4 separate regions of the Homo sapiens genome follow, and all the other regions are linked to region 2. Evidence: fine-mapped expression QTL. A gene starts in region 2. Each other region holds a variant in brackets. All regions are shown on one strand. Distances are from middle to middle.

Region 1 (5,147 bases), 28 kb before region 2:
TGTCTAAATATATATACGGATGGGGAATTTAGGGACATGGGTCTCTCACAACCCCACATTGGAATGTGGTGAGATGCCTCCACCAGGATGCATCCCCAGGCCTCCTGAAGGGGAGGTGTGAGCTCAACTGTGGGCTGTGGTCAGCCTGGTGGAGGCAGCGGCTGTGTGCTCACCTGTGCATGGATAATTCTGAACACAGGGCAGCTTATGTTGGGAGTTCCCTGCTCCCCTCCCTCTCTGCCACCTTCATTGCTTAACTTCCTCCTTCTCCAAGTCTCTGGCCTCCAGTGAGCCCTCCCAGTCCCCACAGGGTAGTGGGACTCCAGGTCACTCACCAGGATGAGCCCCACTTCCACAGAGATACAGGCCCTGGAGAGGGCAGCGGTAGCCAGAATGCAGGGGCACGGGGCGGGCGAAGTAGAGCTGGTCCAGGGACATGGCGCAGTGGAATATGTTCTGCAGAGGCAGGGCCACAGTCATCAGCACAGGAGAGTTACAGCCTTTCCTGCTCTGGCTGGGTTTCTTCCCCTCCCCTGTTCTTCAGCAAATGTTCTTCTCCTTCCAGGATATTTTCTTGGGTTTTAAAATGCAGAAAGGGAAGGAGATGAGACGGAATGGGCACATGCCCTGGGGCTGGGAGTGAAGTTTTCCAGAGGCTTTTTGAGGAAGAAAGCAGGGTGGGGAACACGAACTGAACGGGAAGGAAAAGAGGGTTTTGCTCTCTACTCTGCATCCCTCTCCCTCTGTTGGAAAAACAGAATTGTCTGACTTATTGTGGCTGTTGGCATGCGTCTCTGCGAGAACTCCCTTCTCTGGCCAAGGCATCCACCTGAGCCCGGACCCCGGTGTCCAAGCTCCAGCAGGATCACTGTGAATGGCAGACAAGGGGCAACGGAGCCCGAGCACGGTTCTGCCCCCCTGGCTTGGGTGAGACCAGCCCCAGGCTGAGAAGGGAGGCAGCATGGGACAAGCGAAGGTCAGACTCAGGGGGCAGGTCTGGACAAGAAGCCTGACGTCTGTTGGGCATCCTCACAGGAGTGCTCCCCCACTGCCCTCTTCACCTTTCCCCAAACTGAGGCCATCCTCTTCCCTCGAGTCTGCTCCTCCCCATCCTCCTGCATAAGTGAATGACACCACCTTCCTCCCCCTGGCCTCTGTGCCTACCCTTCACATCACCTCCACCCTGACTCCTATGTGCACACTGTCACCAAGGCTTCTCAAGTCTGCCCGCCCCATGCCTGCTGTACCCAGCCATTCCCTTCCTTCCCGCTGCCTGGCCTTCTTTCCTCTATACCTGGACCAGTGCTGTTCAGTGAACATGTAATGGGAGCTACATATGTAGTTTTTGATTTATTAGTAGCTACATTTAAAAAGTAAAAGCAGAGCCGGTTGTGGTGGCCCATGCCTGCAATCCCAGCACTTTGGGAGGCCAAGGTGGGAGGATCACTTGAGCCCCAGAGTTTGAGACCAGCCTAGACAACACAGGGAGACTCATCTCTACAAAAAAAAAAAAAAATTAGCCAGGTGTGGTGGTGCATGCCTGTAGGCCCAGCTACTCAGGAGGCTGAGGTGGGAGGATGGATGGCTTCAGCCCCAGAGGTCGAGGCTGCAGTGAGCCGTGATTGCACTACTGCACTCCAGCCTGGGTGATAGAACAGGACCTATCTCTAGAAGGAAGAGAGGGAGGGAGGGAGGGAGGAAACAAGGAAGGGAGGGAGGAAGGAAGGAAGGAAGGAAGGAAGGAAGGAAGGAAGGGCAAGCTGATGAAACTAATGTCAATAATATATTTTATTTAGCCCAATATATCCAAAATATTATAATTTCAACATGTAATCAATATATAACTTATTGATGAGATATTTTACATTTTTTTCTATACTGTGTGCATTCTACACTTGCAGCACATCTCACTTTGGCCTCAGATCTTTCTTTTGCTTTTTTTTTAAATTTTCTTTCTAGAGATAGGGTCTCATTCTGTTGCCCAGGCTGAAGTGTAATGACGCATCACAGCTCACTGCAGTCTCAAACTCCTGGGCTCAAGCGATCATCCTGTTTCAGCTTCCTGGGTAGCTGGAACCACAGGTACGCACCACCACACCTGGCGGGGTTTTTGTTTTTGTAGAGATGGGGTCTCACTACGTTGCCTAGGGTGGTCTCTGATCTTTCAAGTGCTCAGTAGCTGCAATGAGGCGATTGAACCTGGCCTCCTATCTGGTCTCCCTGTCTCCAATCTCTAGTTTTTGATAAATTGACAAGTCTGAGGATGTGCTGCTGCCTTGAGAAGGGGGTGCTCTCTCTCAAGAAAGTCAGATGGCAGAGCCAGCATAGTTGTCAAGGCAGAGGGCCACAATCCTGGTGACCTTCTCAGTGGGGGCTGTCCTGCCTGTGTTTCTGAGCCCCCACTAGGGATCCCCCATTCCCTCGGTTTGACCGCTTCTCTGCCCTCTCTCAGCCGGGGTCCCTGCCACTGTCCTCCCTTCCTGATGAAAGCTGAGTATGGAGGGACAAGATAAAGCAGAGAGGTCATAGCCAGGAAGTGAGGGTGCAGAGGGAAGGCTATGGTGAGAGACCCCCTAGGCTTATACATACCCCTCCAGGAAGCCCGAAGATTCTCTCCAAATCTGGTGGTGTGAGGATGTCTCTGCCAACCACAGAGTCCTTGAAGCCAGGGGCATAGACCTCGATGCAATCAAACACTGGGGTGCCAAAAACAGAGAAATGAGATGGT[G/A]TTAGGAAGAAGAGGAGGCACTATGGGTGTACAACTTGGCAAATTTACTAACAGTCATTAAATTACACACAGAAATGGGCTTATTTTATCATATGCAAATTATACCTCAATAGGTGAAAAACAAAAATCAGTCCACAAGCAAATGATTAATTCATCCCAAAGATGCATGGGTAGGCCAGTCCAGTCCCCAGTTTTCCCCACTTCCCTACCCCAACCTTAAACACGAAGCTGCTGATCTCCTTTTGCATATGCAGCTTTTTTCACCTCTTCACTTTTCTCAAGCTGTTTTTTTTTTTTTTTTTTTTTTTTTTGAGACGGAGTCTCACTCTGTCACCCAGGCTGGAGTGCAGTGGCGCAATCTCAGCTCACTGCAACCTCCGCCTCTGGGTTCAAACGATTCTCCTGCCTCAGCCTCCTGAGCAGCTAAGATTACAGGCATGTGCCACCACACCCTGCTAATTTTTTTATGTTTTTAGTAGCTACGGGGTTTCACCATGTTGGTCAGGCTGGTCTTGAACTCCTGACCTCGGGTGATCCGCCTGCCTCGGCCTCCCGAAGTGCTGGAATTACAGGCATGAGCCCCCACGCCTGGCCTGATCAAGCTGTTTCTCTTGCTTGGAATGCCCTTTGCTGCCTGGCCAGCTCCTAGTCATCCTTGGAAACCCAGCTTGACCATCCCTTCCTTTGAAAGCCTTCCTTGTCTCTCTGGCTCATGCGTCTCCTTTGGTTCGTGCAGTCAGCTGTGCTGTAATAAAAGGTTTCTTAATTAGTCTCCTCCATCCCTTGCTAGACTGTGAGCAACTGGAGGGCAGGAACTGTGTCTTCTTGACTTTCTTAGCCCAGTTCCTGACCCCTGCAGTCAACTATGTTGACTTGAGGTTCCCTTGACTATTTCCTCCCTTTGGAATGGCACCTGCAGTTGTCAATCCTGAATGGGGCAGTGAGGAGGAGCAGGCCCAGTTGGGTCGCATGCCCGGCTGTGGCTCTGGAGGCAGAACGTGCAGCTGTCTTTACCTCTGTCTGCATAAGCGTCTCTCTCCTGCTCGTCCCAGGCCTTGCCTCCAGCCAGCGTATAGGGCATGTACTGAGTGAAGAGGGAGACTACATGGCAGCCAGGGGGAGCCAGGGTGGGGTCCAGCGAGGAAGGGATGCAGAGCTCAATCACAGGCCTGTGCGGGCAGGGAGGAGACGGCAGGTCTAAAGAGCAGCAGTGCGGAGGGTAGGGCATCCGAGATGACTTGGGACACAGTGGAGGCCCTGAGATGACACCAATTCTGGGCGATTGTCGCTCTACAGCCACAGTGGTTGTCCACCTGCACGGGCTTAGCGGCTGCTAGCGTGGTCCAGAGCACCTGTGAGGAGCTCGCCTGACCCCAGACCCCCGAATGCATGGCCTGTCCTTGCCTGCCTTCATCACACGCTGTGCTCTAACCACAGCTCCCAAACGCAAATGTCTCGAAGGTCCACACAGACAGTGGGAGTGTGGAAAGGGGCCAGGCCTAAGACAGCAGGCGCCCAAGCAGCCAGATTTCAGCCAGGCTTTAGTGGCCTGACTGTCTTTTCCAGAGCAGACCAATGGAAGACAGAGCTGCTAGGGCTGCCCCGAGCCCCAGCAGAGCTGTGACCTGCTTCCCACCCCACCACCTTTGCCTGCCACACCTTTTCTACCTGGAGCATGTTCTCCCTCTGATCTCCAAATATGAGTCTCCTTCAAGGCCACGGGAAATGCCCCTTCTCCCTGCGTCCCTCAGCTGCAATGTTCTCGCTGAACTCGGATGTCCACCAGGGATCTCAAACATCCCCTGTTCAAACCCCAATGCCTGATTAGCCTCTAAAATCTGCTCCACCCCCACCGCCTCTTCCTCTTTTCAGTAAATGGAGGCATCATTTCACAGTCGCTCCTTTTTTTGACCCACATCCCACTCCCTATCCAACAGAAAGTCCTGTTGGCTTCACCTTCAAAACATACCCAGTCTTCCAACACTTCTCATCACTTCCCCTGCCCCCACCCTTGTCCAAGCCACTGTCCTCTCTCCCTTGGATTCTGCAACAGTAACCCATTGCAACAGATGCCTTAACTTTTTCTGCATACAGTGTCCAGGTTGGTCTTTTTAAAGCATAAGGCAGGCTCTGCACAAACTTTCCTGGAGTAAGAGCCAGGGCACTTGACAAGACCCAGCACCATCCGAGACCCTTCATTCCCAGGTGCTCTCTCTCCAGCCACTCTGGCCTCGTCCCTGTGCCTCCTATACAGCAGCACACTCCTGCCCCAGGGCCTTTGCACCTGACCTTCCCTCTGTCTGGACGTTTTTTCCCCAGATACCCATAAGATCTGTATTCTCACTTCCTTCCGGTCTCCGCTCAAGTGCCACGTTATTAGAGAAGCCTTTCCTCCCCTTCCCTGCCTATTTTTCTCCAC
Region 2 (5,134 bases):
AGGGACTCAGAGGTAACCCTTGTCTCAGAAGATGCCGTTCTGTTCCTCACTGAGGCCCAAGATGCCTTTAAACCAGGCTTTATGGTATGTTTAGCAACTAAAGAAATCATGTCAAGGAAAAGCTCACACACTGAGACTCACTCGCACTTGTAGGCAAGTCACCAAGGCAGCTGGTGACCTAAAGTCAACCTTCCCCATTAGGAGACAGCAGGGTGAGCTGTGGCTGAGCACGGAAGGAGGCAGGGGGCTTCTCTGAGGCTAAGTGAGGTGCTGGAGATGGCTCCCACCAGCCCGGGGAGTTTGTGAGCCGGCTGTCAAACAGCCATTGATATAAACTAAATTATATAAGCTTACAATTAAATAAATTAAAAACAAAGGTAATAAATACTCAAAACACACTACCTCCTATTTGTTTTACTACATTTGACTGTTGCCCATGCCCTGGCAGTCACTGGCCTCTATGTACATATCTGCATGGTGGACACACTATACAATGATGTGCTACTGGGTATCTCTCCTAAATCACATTGAGCAACCTCATCTTGGTAACAGAAAAGGCTATGGTGGGAGTATTTACACCACTGTCATCAGCAAATATTACACAGAAGGGCTGAATTTATTTTTTGTGGTCAGGCTTAAGAAAGTGATGGGAAAATGCTAATAATGCAGATTAAACCTAACAGTGTTAGCTGTTATAGCATGAATAAATAGCACAAAAATTGAAGGAAATATTCTAGTATTAGAACAATATTATCTTATTTGAGTAACATCATTCCTGTCATTTAAAGAAGGAGGCCGGGCGCAGTGGCTCACACCTGTAATCCCAGCCCTTTGGGAGGCTGAGGCAGGTGGATCACAAGGCCAGGAGTTTGAGATCAGCCTCGCCAACATGGTGAAACCCCGTCTCTACTAAAAATACAAAAATTAGCCGGGCGTGGTGGTGGGCGCCTGTAGTCCCAGCTACTCGGGAGGCTGAGGCAAGAGAATCGCTTGAACCCAGGAGGCGGAGGTTGCAGTGAGCCGAGATTGCGCCGCTGCACTCCAGCCTGGGCAACAGAGCAAGACTCCATCTCAATAAATGAATAAATAAATAAAATAAAAATAAATTTTAAAAAATAAAGGAGTAAGGTTGGGACATAAATCTTTGTTGTTTCATTTGTTTCACGATCATCCTACTCTTTACAGAAAATATGGAGCACCGTTCTCTTTGGAGCTACCCTCATTTGTCATTTGCAACTATAGGTTGGCTACTGAGTTTGGCAAAAATCAAAGAAAGCCTTTGGTAAGAATCACTCGGGTAGACTGCATTTAAATTGAGAGTATTGTATCTTTATTTGTAAAATTGTGTGCAGTGTATCTTTTATTTCAATATTTAAAATAAGCATGTGTATATGTGTATATATATGTACGTAACACATATACATATATATACACATATATGTGTGTATATATACATATATATACATGTACACACACACATACATCACACATTTTTCCCTGGAGAGGTGAGTGTTGAGTATCTACCAGCTCGCAACTGCTCTAGTACATATGAAAATGAAGGCATGCCCTCAAAGCTGCATGTTGAGTGCCGTCTGCTTTCGGTCCCGTCATTATCTCTGTATAGACCCAGTTGGCAATCATGCATTTGGGGCCCTCTGCAAGTGTGAAAGGAAGGCACTAAGGAAAGACCACCTGGTCCTGGGCCTGCCTCTTCCCCTAGCACCCAGTAGACTGTGATACTCTGAGCCCAGGGGTTGGCAAAGTGTGGCAGATCACTGCAGATCCCCAAATGTCCCAGAGCTGCAAGGCAATGGGGTCCATCTCCCTCTGCAGACACGCAGTAGGAACTCTGGGACTCAGTTCTGTTTTATCCTAACTGGCCTTTATGAAATGACTGCAGTTTCTTGTGACGAGGGGTGGCCTCAGTGGTAAGGTAGTGGTGACCAGAACTCAGGGCACTGAGGGGGCGGGGTGCTGGATTTCACTTGTCTGTTGGCCCAGGGCTCTTTCCAACCCTTACAAACCATAGGCTGAGAATGTGGTGGAAACTAGGTCACTTTGCAAGAGATATAGGGAAACCCCTGAGCTCACCTAGTCTTCCTGTCATTCTCCATGGGAAGATCCAAGCCCAGAGAAGGCAAGCATTTGCCCCAGGCCACACAGCAGAGCCAGCACCGGAATCCCAGGTGCCTGCCTGCCAGATGGAAGGGCTTTCCATTGCAGCCCCTGCTAGCGTATAAACTTCTGGCTGGGTTATGCCAGAGGAGAGAGCAGTGGGGCTTGGCTCCCCCTCCCCCTCCCCACCAAGCTCTGAGCAGGGCTGTCTTCCCGCCCCTCAGCTCTGGCCCGGCCTGCTTTACCACTTTACCTGCTCCTATCACCACCGCATCATACTCAGGCTTCAGACCTCCCCTGGCTTCCGTGTTATCTCGTCTCCACGCCGGGAAGGGAGAGGCGGCCACAGCCTTGCAGAGACCTCGGCCACTTGCAGCCATTTCTGCCCCAGGCTGGGCCTTGCTAGGCAGGGAGTTTGCTAGCGATTGGCTTTTGTGCTGCCCTAGGCACGGGGTGGAGCAGGGAGGAAGCAGGAAGAGGAGGAGCTGCAGTCCCCCTCCAGGCCCCCTCCACCATGCATTCTTGGCCACAGGCCAGCCTCCTGCTGCCCTGGGGCTGTGCTGGGCCGTCGGGAGTGTTGCCTATTAACCAGGCGGTGTCACCTCCAGGATGCAGGGGATAATGGCAAAACTGACAATCCACTGGGGTTCCTATGTCAGGCTGGCATTGTGCTGAACCCTGTAGGCAAAACTCCCCATTTTACAGATGAGGGCGCTGAGGCTGCGGGGTTAGGGAATGAGTGGTGGAGGCAGAGTGGAGCTCGAAAGGGCCCTCTCCTCCCCTGTGCATCTACCTTCTCAGTCAGAACTGAAACGCCTGGGATGGCAAGTGCTCGTGTCAGACTCTGCTCCAACTCCATGCTGAGTCTGCCAGTGCAGAGTGGTGATGCCTCTACGCCCACAGGAGGCGCCCAGGGCGGCCATCTAGCGTCACCACGACCAGGGCCTTCAGACACCGCAGAGGCAGCTGTGTCTGTCGCTGAGGAGCACTGGAGTCCTCTCCTAAATGCTCAAACACAAACCCACAACGAGGGCTTAGGGGCAAGTTCGCTGTCTGTAATTCTCTGGTGTTTTAGTTTTGAAGGCCTGGCCAGTTCTCCTCTTTTGGCACCTTGCCCATTTTCCAAGAATCCCCAAGGATTCGAGGTCACATCTGTAAATACCTCCAGCTAAAGTTCTTTCTGACCCTCCCTTAGGCCTGCCTTGAATTAGGAGCCCCTTTGTTCTCTGCCCATTACTTAGCAGAGTGTTCCCCTAGGAGGAAAAAACCCCTTGGAGCGGAGAGTTCCTGCACTGCTCTGATATCGCAGTGTGACGGAAACCTGCTATTGGTAACGAATCTCAGAACTGGGAGAGTATGTGGAGATGATCCTAAGAGGGGGTTCCGAGGACCCCTCCACACACCATGGACAGTTACCCCGCATGTGAGCATCTCTGCTAAGATCTGATTCAGGATGTTCACTCCTGTGTTATTTATTATATAGAAAGATCAAGGGGACTGGTTAAACTAGACATATCACATCCAGCCGCTGCTAAAAACTAAAGGGAAATAGTAGGTGACAAAAGCAGGGGTCCTGAACAGTGGTGGGCTCAGGGGATTGGAGTTTTTTCCTTTATGTTTTTCTGTATTTTCCACAATCCACGCTTTTCATTGCCATTCCATCAGATGATGTTAAGGAGGAACACAGATCCAGTCACCTGAGGGGATACTTCCTCACTGCCACCTTCTCAGGGTTTAGACCAACATGTGGGTTCTAGTTCCCCCAGCCCCAAAGCTGTTCCCTGCAAGGAAGAGATCAGTCTTTGAGCAAATTTTGGCTCAAGACTAAAGACACAGAAGGCGAGGCTCCTGCATGCACAGCACACGGCCATCTGATCCTGTGCTGCAGTGGACGCTGACTTTCGCCACGCCGTCCTCTCTGGCCCAGCACCGGCCTCCTGGCCTCAGAGGAGCAGACACTCCCAGTCCCAGGGCTCTCAGGGTCTCTTGTCCCTGGGTCCATTCTGGGACAGGAACTTCTCGGTTGGAAGAGAGGGGCTGTACCCCTCGGGTGGTGGTTCTCAATCCAGGGCGCACCACAGAAGCTTTGAAAGACATCAAAGGCTGGGCTCCACGGCCGCCAAGGGAATCCAAATCTCTGGGCCAGGGCCAGGGGCTTGAGAACCCCAGCCCTAGGGCAGACGCCAGCCAAGCATGAAGGGGCTGGGACTTAGCAAGGGCTTATCAGCACTGACAGAAGGGTCTAGAAGCACTAGCATGTTGGGCTTCAGTGATAACAATGACCAACATTTATTGAGCACCTACCACACTGGGTAATCCTCACACCACCCTGGGACGGAGGTGCCATCGCTTTAAACGTGGGGAATAGAAGAAACTTGCCAGGAGGTGCAGAGAGGAAGTGGCAGCGCTGGAATTCAAACCCAGGCAAAGGAGCACCTTTTACCTGGGGTAGGAGAGAGCTTGCTGGGTGGGCTTCCTCCACGCAGGGAACAGCAGAGATGGGGCTTCCTCCCCATCTCCCAGGATAAAGGCAGAGGCAGCTCTGGAAGAGGAGCTGTTGCCACCGTTGTTTTACAAACAGGACCCCTGGGCTTCCCTCTTCCTCCAGAGAGAAGGATCTGGGGCCTTGCTCAGTACCTGACATGGAGGGTGGTCTAGGTGGGGTTTTAGAAGCCCTGGGGCCACCCTGGGCACTCTGCCCTATCCTCAGGATGGCCACTGCAGACAGGAGGCTCTCGTCATGGGGAACAGTGGCAAGCAAGGGTGGCTGGAGGACAGGATGCAAAGGCAGACTGCGGCCACCTTGGCCTAGAGCAGGGGGATACGGGAGGCCTCCCAGAGGCGCCGGGCCAGCTGGCCGGCCTGCTGCACCAGCAGGTCAGTGGGGATGACAGACAGGTGCAGGGCCAGCAGCTCGTAGCACCTGACAGCCTCGGTTGGGCGGTTCTTGCTGTAGTAGCGCAGGAGCTTCCTGGGGAGGAAGGGGAGGATGGGATTCAGGAGTGAGGCTGTGGCACTC
Region 3 (5,147 bases), 48 kb before region 2:
TGCCACATAGAGAGAAGCCTCTGATACACTCCCAAAAGCTACAGCTCTTATCCTAAAATAATTTACTGTGCTCCGCTGGGCTCTCCACTTCTCACGTGTTCCTGATTTTCCCTTTCACTACTGTCCCACTGGCCAAAGCATCAGTGTGGGAGGCCAAGCCCACAGTCAGTGTGGGAGGCCCCACCAAAGGGTGTGGGGGCAGGGAGCAAACTGTGGCCTTTACTATCATCAGTCAACCATGGAAAGGGAACTGATATTTATTAAACACCTGCTATGTGCCAAATGCTTTACTTTTCATCTTATTTAAGCTTCACAACAATTCTCTGAAGTGCTGGCATCCCTGTCCCTTGATGAAGAAGCATCACTCAGAGACGTGGGTCACTAGCCCATGTGGTTAGCAGGTGCTGGAGTGGGGATTCGTACCTGCTGAGTTGGGGAGCGGGGCGGAGCCTGCCCCTCTGAGAGTGACTCTGAGTATGACATAAGTGAGTCACAGTGAGAATTACAGGAGATCAAACAGAAGCCTGTGAATGAAGCTACGAAGTGGATCCTGCTCCTTACTTAAGGGGGCATGGTCTCTCTCCAGGCCAACATGTATCACCAGCGATGATATCCTCTGGTACGCCAGTTCTATATTCCTCACCACTGGGGATGAAGAGAAAAAGGAGGGAGAAGGGGAAGCGATGTGATGCATGGGACCAGAGTCCCAGATGCTGATGGCCTCAGCGGTGGGGGCGTGTGAAAAAAACCTTTTCCTTTTTCCGTTTCCAATGTCAGGCTTTGCCCTCTGAGGGCTCACAGGCCACCCAAACCCTTTCCATGCTTTCACACACAGTTGAGGTTTTGTTTGTTTGTTTGTTTTGTTTCTTTTTTTGTTTTTTAACAATTTTGAAAGTGCTTACGTAGAGACACAGCTTTAGATGGGCCACATGAAAGGCCCCGTTCAGACAGCTCTCATCTGATACAAAGCCTCAGAATGCCCACTGACGTGGCCCAAACGGTGGTGCTCACTTGGGCAGGTGCATCTGAATTTCACAAGGTCCCCTGATGGAGGCGTCATCTGAGCTGAATTCTGGCTCAGAACAAAGGAAGTGCAAGTCAGGCCCCCCGTCAGAACTTCCGTCCGTCTTTCTGCATAGAAGGATCCTGCCTCCTGGGTTGTTGGTGGCTGTGTGGAGCCAAGTCAATTGCTAACTGTCACTGAAGACCAAAAAAAAATTGCAGTTTTCAAGTTCAGTGGACAGGGACTCAGAGGAAAGCAGGTGGGAGAGAAGAGCAGGAGCTGCTCACAGCAGCCAAAACAGCAGGATGGGATCTGCGCAGCCCAGGCCTCCAGTGCCAGACAGCCCTGGTGTCTCAGTGGCCGGCTGACCTCCTGAGGCCTGGCCACAGCCAGGAGCCCACATACCCCGCTGGGTAAGGCGCAGAGGCCTGCACACAGCCTCGGTGACCCCTCATCTTACACACACCCTGAAATAGAAGCACAGCAGGAAAGACCTGCTCAGCCGCACACCGCCTGACCCGGAGCCAGCCTGACGAAGCCGGAACTTCCCACTTCACCTGAACCCACCCGCCACCCGCCTGGCCACAGACTCACTGCCCTCTTTATCCCCAAATGAAAAGGGGTAGTTGTCTCGCTTGGTGCCCAGGGTGCCAGCTTTTTTACCCTTCTTCATAGGGCATATTTCTGGGCCTATCCTCTTTTTCTCCCAAAGTACCTAAGACAATGCTCCCTTTATAGGTCAGGGAAGGAGTATAGATCCTGCTTTCATTCTGTCTTCTTCCCCCAGGGCAAACAGCTTCACCCTCAGCTTTATGAATTCCTTCCTATTCTTACTTTTCTCCGAAGCTGTTTCTCATTGACCTGACGTCTCCTGACCTGTTGACCAAAGCACCATTCCACGTGTCCTGTGTGTGTGTAGCTCACTGTGAACTTGCTGTTAAGCTGAGGCCTGGCCCCGAATGTCATCAGCTTGCTGGTTACTTGCTGAGACAGGAGATGGAGGTGCTACAAGAGAGGGAGATGAAAGAGGAAAGGAGAGAGAGGTGGAGAGATGGAAATGACCAGGACGGGGAGGGCGGGGAGCAGAGCTGAAAAGTAGGAAGGAAGGAAGGTGCGAATATGTGCTGGGTGCTACCCTGGGGCCTGTATATATTACCTCACGTAGCCCTCACAACACACAGGTGACGTTCGCATCAGCACTCACATGTTTCGTGAGTTTTCAGAAAGGTTAGTTTGTCTGAGATCACTCAGCTGTGAGGTGGCAGGGACTAGATTCAAATTCAGATTTTTGGCTTCGATTTCAGGACTTTTTCCTTTCTAATCTTCTGCTCCCCCTGAGAGGGGACTAGAGGAGAGAGAAAATGAAGGGAAATAGAAGGGAAGTGGAGACCACCAATTGTTCTCTGGTTGCAAGCAACAGAAACTGATTCTAGCTATCTTAGATGGGAAAAGGTTTGATTGGAGGGGCGCCAGGTGGCTTTCAGAATCCAGTAGACTGTAGGAGAGCAGGGTCAAGAACCACAGTGTTCTGGGGTCTGGGCAGGAGAAATTAATTGACAGCTTACTTGAGATTCTGCCCCTGAAATAAATATGCTCCAAACATTTCCCCCACTCTCTGTGCAGGAGAGAATCCCAGGAAACAGTCTGATTTGTTGTATTGGGGTCACTTGCCTACCCTTAAGTCAAGGGAGCTAAGAACACCAACATGTCACATGA[C/T]GGAGGAGAGAGCTCCAACTCCCAATGCTGTTATCAAACAAAGGGGACACGGACACAGAGCACCCAAACCACAGATGACAACCACGCAGGAACTTTTTAGGTGCTGCCTGCAGGTATCAGGGGCTGATTCTATCTGCCCCAAACTGCATTAGGGCTGAGCCCCGCAGGTTGAGTCTTTCTCATGACATTGAAATGGCCACCATTGTCACCACCAGTTCCATCTGACAGAGACGGGCTGGGCCCCCACCTCTTCCAAACCTGGCTTCTGGGAGGAAGCATTTCTCCTCTCAGGAATTAGTCCTCATTCAAAAACTCCGTGCAGTAAGTTTGCAGAACAATGAGCAGCTTACAATCAACACTCTGGACACACTGTTTTATAAAGACTCCTCCTAGGGCAGTGGTCTTTAGAGTGAAACTTCTTGAGTTGGAATTCTAACACCATTACCAGCTGTAAGAGAGAAAATGCCCACCTCCTCTCTGAGCCTCAGTCTGTTCTGCTGCACAGTAGGGGGATAACGCGTACTCTGCCTCCATCTGTATGTTGTTCCATCAAATGAAATAAAAATTGTCATCAGCTTGTAAACGGTGAGAGCCATACAAGATACAGAGAGGCATTGTGGTCCTTTTCACTATTACCAAGCGAGGCCAGGCTGCTCTGGGAGTGTGGCAGGAGGCCGAAGGCGGCTGCACGCTGCCGTAACAAGAGCGGGGGTTGGAGGAGTTGAGGGTGAAAGTCCGGGCAATGGGGTCCTCTGTGCTTCCAGCTTGCTCTCTACTTCAAGCACTGTGAATAGATGAAACTCCACCACATCCTTTCACCCATTCCAAGGCCAAATGGCCCAAGGGCAGAGTTATACATTCAACCGGTAATTTGAAAAGCCCTGATTAGCCTCATCTAAGCTCTGTCTTCTTTACTGAGAACCCAACTGCTAAGCCTTTCCTGGCAATGAGGCTTCTTGAGGCTGAGCCTTCACAAAGCTGGGTTGTCTCCAAGTTTCCCTTTTTTTCCTTCCACAGGCTGGCACTGCACAGAGATGGAACCTGATGAAACGGCCCCATTTGAGCGCCTGCTGTATCGCGTTGGCTCTGCTTCCTGCAGCTGTGCTCCAAGATGAGCCTTTCAGACATCGCTCCCTAATAGCTCCATCTCCCCCAGTCCAGGAGGATGCGCATTCCTCTCCTCATTCACATGCACCACTTCAAGCCATCTGCACGCTCTACAGGGGACTTGCCGCCTAACATCCTAATGTGCAACCCCATCCAAATCCTCTGCTGGAATCTCACTATTTGCACCACTTACGCTCCTGGAGCGTGAAACAGAAGGGCCAGTCCTCTTGTCTCTTTATTCTAAGTGTTTAATACAGATTCCATGGACTTGGTCCATAACAATATGAGTGTGGTCTTACATCAGTCCTTTTACTAATTTCTCATCATCTCCCTCATCCTTGTCCTTTAGTGATTGTTCCAGACCTTCTCTTCTTATCCTCATACTCTCCTCTTTGGTATAGTAGTGAGTAAAAGAAAGAAAGAAAAAAAAGGTCCTAGTGTGACTCATATCTTCATGGTTTATTTACTACCTGGAGGATTTTTGAGGCTATGAACATTGTTTTATTTTTTGCTGTATCCCCAGCACCTAGCACAGATATGTGTGTGTATCAGGGCCTGTATGTATAAGCTCTCCGATGCTGCTATAACATGTAGTTCCCCAGTCAAAACTAAGTATTATTAAAGCAGCATTTTGGACAGGGTTTAAATTACCTGGCCCTTGACTTTGGGAATTGGAATTTTGTCTACTGCAGTCGCTTGGGGGACCTTCCAGTAGAGATTTATAATTAAAATGATATCATCCAGTAAGGCTTTTACCACAGGGCTTCTAAAAACAATAAAAGGATTGTCTGAGGCAGAATCTGCACTGTGGAATGAGAATTATATATGGTTTACTATAAAGTAAACTTAGGCATAATTATATGTTGTGAACTACAAACGCACAGTGGGATTCTGAGATTAATTTCCAATCACTCCTCACCACGGATTGGTGAAAATCCCAGCCAAGTGTGGTGAAGGAAGTGTCTCTGTTTCTGCCCGGTTTGGAGGTATTGTCTGTGCATTCGTTGCTGGTCTCATATCCCAACTTCCAGCTGCTGCTGCTCCACATCAGTCACTGCAGAGATGTTCAGTTTTTCATGCCAGGATTGCTCTGTCAGGATTTGTGTTAGTAATTGCAGAGACTTCGTAGGTTCTGTTTGCAATCATACGTAACTCAGATTTTAAATTAAAAAGGTAAAAATGGAATAATTTGGAAAAACATTCACAGAATATCAGAGTTAAAAGAAGATATTTAACACCATCAAGACCAGGAACAGCAAATAGTTTTCTGTCCTAGCTGCCAGCCCTATCAACACCGTGTCTAGGCCTTGCCCGTGAGAAT
Region 4 (5,147 bases), 42 kb before region 2:
ACCATGGGGAAATGCTTGATAGCATGTTAAGTGAAATCACAGTATTGTAAACACAGGATCATCAGACTAGAGGAAAAAAGTGTTTCACTGGAAAAAGCATCTTTATCCTTTCTGGAGTAAGAAAGGGTTAATATTGTGTATTATGTGTAGCTATATCATTATGTCTCTCTCTTTTGGTGTTTTTGTTTATCTATCAGGCACTCAGAAATATGAACAAAATTTGCACTCAGAAGCCGTAACCATGGATAATTTTTGTCTTTTGGCCGTTTTTATTACATCATTCCTTCCTGTTTATAGCAGCAATATTAGAAAAGAGATAAACAGAAGTAAAATAACATTTATAATTCTCCCCTGGATAGATAACATTTGGCGCTTTCTTTCCAGACAATTCAATATGCAGATAGACACATAAGTGCATTTATTTTATAAAACTGGGATCATACTCTGCATCTGGTGAGTATTTATAAAGATCGACCTTGCCCTGGCTGGTGCCATCCCAGTCCCTGGGGGCTTGTGCTCGCCTCTGGGTGGAAGTTCACAGGCAGGCAAATCACAGAGCTGCAGCTCAACCAAGTCTTTATGTTGCCTCTATAAGATGTTAAAGGTAAAACAAGGGAAGGTATACCGTGCTCAGTTTCTGCAGAAGCAGGCCCCTTCCCCTGTAATCTGATGAGCTCTTTGCTTTTATCCTAGAAAAATACAGCAAAGGTCAGGATGGCCCATCGGAGCTCTCGTCCTTGCCAAATGGTGTGTGGACAGGAAAATGTCAAGTGTCTCTGCTGGAAGCACTTGACCGGGAAGAGGCATTCATCCTCCCAGCACCCTCAGGGACAAGGGGTGCCAGCCGGGCTCCCCTGCCCTCCTGTTGCATGACACGGTCTCTGATACTGGGCCACCCGCTCCATGCCCGAGTTGCGTCCCCTCCCAGGGGCACACTCTCTGATGCTACTAAGGCAGGCATGGAGGAGACATGGCAAAGAGAAACCAGAGGATCTGTACTTTTCCCTGAGGCTTTTGCTCCCAACCAGCTGCAGAGAGAGTGTGAGAAGGAGAGTACCCAGGCCAGGCACGGGGAGCAACTGCGAGTCTCTGTATTTGTCTTCTGGGCTATTATGACAAAGAACCACAAATTGGGTGGTTTAAATTTATTATCCCACAGTTCTGGAGGCCAGAGGACCACACTCGAGGTGTTAGGAGAGCCACACTTCCTCTGAAACCTCCTGGGGGGTGGCGGGGGGATCTTTTCTTGCCTCTTCCATGGTCACCCCAGACACCCTTGGCTTGTGGCAGCATCCCGCCCATCTCCACCTCCACTTCACACAGCCGTCTTCTCCCTGTGTCTGTGTCTTCATAAGGCACTGTGTGTGTGTGTGTGTGTGTGTGTGTGTGTGTGTGTGTCCCAACTTCCCTCATTTTATAAGGACATGATCATATAGGATTAGGGCTCATCCTTAGGACTTCATCTTGACTCCATGTGCAAAGACCCTGTTTCCCAACAAGGTCACGTTGATTGGTACTGAGGGTCAAAACTTCAACATGTCTTTTTGGGGGACACAATTAGACCCTAACAAGCCCTATGAGGGTTCAAGAGGACCAGTGCTCTTTCACTATGTCAGATGTATGTGGAGGGAGTGACTAAGACAGACAAACTATTTTAAAATCCTACCTCTGCCCCCTAACACACCTCTCCAGCCCTCAGAGAACCTTCCTTGGAGGACCCATGGCACCTGTAGCTTTGGAAAAGTCACTTGACTTCTCGGGGCCTCTGTTTTCTCATTTATTAATTGAGCTAATGCAGTGACTCTCAAAGTGGGACCTGAGTATCATTCTGATGACTATGAAGTGACCCAAGCACGCAAATCTTTCCTGTGGTTCCTCCAGGTGGGTCACAGAGGTGGCCCCCAGACTTTACTTCTTATGTACAAGTAAAGCTTTTAACCCACAAAAATTTGGTATTCATAAACTAAAATTAGTGTTCCTGGGATTTACTGAGGACTCCAATTTGTTATTCTACACTATACTTTACATAGTTGGAATTTCCCCAAGATTTGGAAAAACGCTGTTTCGTTAGCTCTTCAGCAGTTATTTTGAGTTATCATGGTTTTCAACCGCTTTTATTCATACTTTATATTTATAAGTTACTATTGGTTTTGTGCCCTCATTATCCATTGAGTCTGGCGAGAGTTTGGGGTTGTCCTAGAATGGGTAGTAATAAGTATTTACTTTGATAATTTTTGGCTTTTATTATAAAATTGTGCAATTTCTAGACATTATATGTAAATGAATTGCAGTTGAATAATTCATCACTCATGTACCCCTACTGCTAAGGGAGGTGTATACATGATCCCTTTATATTTTGCTTGTATGGTGGTTTGCCCAGGACTGAGAGGTTTGCCGGAATGTAGAATTTTCAATGCTAAAGCTGGGAGAATCCTGAGCAAACTCCCACGGTCGGTCACCCTATTATAGAAGGACACTTCATTGGTGGCTTCCTTGCCGGTGAATTTGTGCTATTTTTTTTTCATCACTTTCGTCTTGCAATCAAGGTTAGCATAATAAAATTAGTAGGGTTATTTTGAGATCATGGGGCGTTCATTTATAATATAAAATCAAGTGTACAATGGCAGATTTTTCTTTAACATAAATAGGAAGTGAACCGTGTATACTGCCTGCTCAGCAGGTTTAGTGCAATATGTCTGTTTGGTTCCTCTGCGATCCTCTTCTCCTTCCCATAAGCCCCACACCTATAATTACCAAACTCAGGAGAGAGGGGGAACTGGTGAGACGTTGTGTCCTTTGGCCCCACTCAAGTGGATATAGTCAAAGAAGTTTAGGAACCCCTGAGTTAAGGACTCCTAGACTGCCCTACCTCTTACAGCTTGAGGCTGCAGATCCACCCTGACCGTGCTCAAAATCCTAAGCCAATGCAGAGTCAGAAGCAGCTCAGAAGCTTCCCCGGAGGTCCTT[G/A]CTGAGAATTCCCTAACCGGCAGGCAGTTCCTCCCGCCCTAGGAAGATTTTGTGTATAGCCTCCTTTGCATAGTGTCCGCTATGAATTCTCTTCTCTGGCTCCATTGCATGACAGGAAGGCAGGAGAGGAGGACAGAAAGCTGCTGCTTATTTTCAAGCTTATCTCCAGCTGTCAGAACTCTCATTAGGGGCTTTTTGCTTTGGACTTAATTTACCTTAGTCCTCACAGCAATGCTGTGATGTATGACTGACTCTACTTTGTAGATCTGGAACCCGGCTGCCCTGACCTGGCTCACCTCGAGCCCTGGTCTCCCCTCCATGCTCCCTCAGCCCCTGAAGTCCCAAGGAACCCAGGACTCCACTCACCTGAACAAAGGTCACTTGAAAACTGGGAAAGGGACAGAAGCTTTAAAAAGCCCAAACGAACAAACAAGAGGTTGACAATTTAAAAATAAAGCCAACACAAACTCAGCCTGGAATGGAAGCTCCTGATGGAGTCATCCTTAGAATTCACCACCCGCAATTTACCCCAAATCCTGGGTGACCCCTCCTCCACTGCTCAGACTGTTCTTAGGTACAGCTGCTTCACACTGCATCGTGGCCCTGTCATAGATGACTAAGCCATCAGTGGGAGGCATCTTTCCCTACATACCATCTCTTTTTCCCGGCTCAGAGTGTCTTTTCTAAACCATGTCCTTGCTTTACATTTCCAGGGGGTCGTCCTTAACAGTGGGTAGGTAACCCTGTGGTGACCTGATTCCTGCTCAGCTGTGAGCTTTTTCTGTCCTCTGGTGGGGGACAGACACTCAGCATTCCAGACAGGGTTAGTGGTGGGACTTCTATTTATTTAACTACTAATCCTACTTATGTGAAATTAATTTGCTCTCCTATTATAACTCACCTTGCTTCCTGCCCTGACCGTCTCCTGTAATTGACACCTGGCTGCTCCATTGTGCTCCTGCTTCCTGGGCTAAGGGGCAGCGGTTGGAAGCCAAGTCTTGGAGTGACTCACATTAGGAGGCTGCTCTATACAGAAGAGAGGTTTGCTCATTATAGACTGAGGAGGGTTACTGTAAAAACAGCGGTGGTTTTTTTTTTCTCCTAATAACCAGTTCCCCTTTAGGCTAGCCCTTTCCAAGGAAGTTTGTGTACTATTATTAAACTTCTTCCTAACTCCAAATATGGGCTGCTCCAGTTTCTGCAGCGTGCAGATGAGTCTCTGGCTTCTGTAGTAGAAATCCAGGCCCAGGTCCCCATCTGCCTCGGTCCTTGATGAGATGCAGGTCATCCACAGTCTCAAAGCAGGTAGAGGGGTCCATGCTGCCCCAGGGGACAATACCTACAAGGTGTTACAAACACCTCCAGCCAAAAACAGGTGCTGCCACTAAAGCTTCCCAGATCCAGGTTCCACAGCCAGGATCCGTCTTCTGTCTGTGGCAGAGGTGAATGAGGAGCTGTTTGCATTGAGGCTGCAGAGAACATGGCTGTATTATGGAGATGAGAAGGAGCCACGCTGGCCTCTGTTCATGGCCCTCCACTGAGCACCTGGGCTTGGCAGACAGAGGGGTGTAGTAGTCTGAAGATCTGGCTCTAGCCTCCAAGTGAGAAGCTCCCACTCCCAACTCATGTCCATATCTCAACTGCTCATTTGAGTCCTTGGGAGAGGGCGAGGGGAGGTGGGGAGGAGGAAGCCCAAGAGTTTGTCCCCTGGCCTCTGCCAACACTGCAAATGTGGCCACTTTAACAGGCTAACAGACTGGACGTCCTCCCATGTGTGTAAAATCCCCATACCTCCTCCAGCAAACTCCATGTTGGCTGTAGAATGAAGGCCACCTTCTGCCCGGCATGGCATCTGCAGCTTGACCCTCTTATCCGGCCTTATTCTCGCCTTTGCTCTTCACAATCCTCATCCCGTCCGACTGTGGCTCTGAACTCTCTGCCCATCCCTCCATCCCACCGTTGTCACATGGTGCCCAGAAGACCCTGAATGCCCACCTTATTCTTTTCACTCATCATGTCTAGTGCATCCTTGACCCCACTCTAGCTCAGTCCCCTCTGCTGTGAGAAATACTTCCTGACCCTACCAATTAACAGGCAGCTTGTCTCTCCAAATTCCACTAGTGTGCTCACACAGATTCATGCAGCTAGAGTTGTTAATAATTCTTATATGAGTGTTCTTT

The links. PIP is the estimated chance that this variant, and not a neighbour inherited with it, causes the effect.
Region 1: its variant is fine-mapped to the expression of PYROXD2 in blood mononuclear cells (TOPMed, PIP above 0.99).
Region 3: its variant is fine-mapped to the expression of PYROXD2 in whole blood (TOPMed, PIP above 0.99).
Region 4: its variant is fine-mapped to the expression of PYROXD2 in blood mononuclear cells (TOPMed, PIP above 0.99).

Annotation. Positions count from the first base shown.
Region 1 is chr10:98,384,612-98,389,758 of GRCh38, forward strand. PYROXD2 (pyridine nucleotide-disulphide oxidoreductase domain 2) reads right to left here. Exons shown (of 16, transcript NM_032709.3): 13 at 3,743-3,897; 14 at 2,590-2,696; 15 at 336-456. Among named protein-coding and RNA genes, the nearest start is that of MIR1287, 8.1 kb to the right of the region's middle. The variant G/A (reference allele first, on the strand shown) is at 2,729.
Region 2 is chr10:98,412,641-98,417,774 of GRCh38, forward strand. It overlaps PYROXD2 (pyridine nucleotide-disulphide oxidoreductase domain 2), which reads right to left and starts at 2,542. Exons shown (of 16, transcript NM_032709.3): 1 at 2,369-2,542. The coding sequence starts at 2,495. HPS1 (HPS1 biogenesis of lysosomal organelles complex 3 subunit 1) reads right to left here. Exons shown (of 20, transcript NM_000195.5): 20 at 3,558-5,086. The coding sequence ends at 4,924.
Region 3 is chr10:98,364,459-98,369,605 of GRCh38, forward strand. It overlaps LOC105378449 (a long non-coding RNA gene), which reads left to right. Exons shown (of 3, transcript XR_001747305.2): 3 at 3,737-4,110. Among named protein-coding and RNA genes, the nearest start is that of MIR1287, 28 kb to the right of the region's middle. RefSeq lists an enhancer at 3,542-4,160 and a silencer at 3,694-3,988. The variant C/T (reference allele first, on the strand shown) is at 2,720.
Region 4 is chr10:98,370,785-98,375,931 of GRCh38, forward strand. No RefSeq gene overlaps it. Among named protein-coding and RNA genes, the nearest start is that of MIR1287, 22 kb to the right of the region's middle. RefSeq lists enhancers at 4,016-4,517, 4,518-5,017. The variant G/A (reference allele first, on the strand shown) is at 2,968.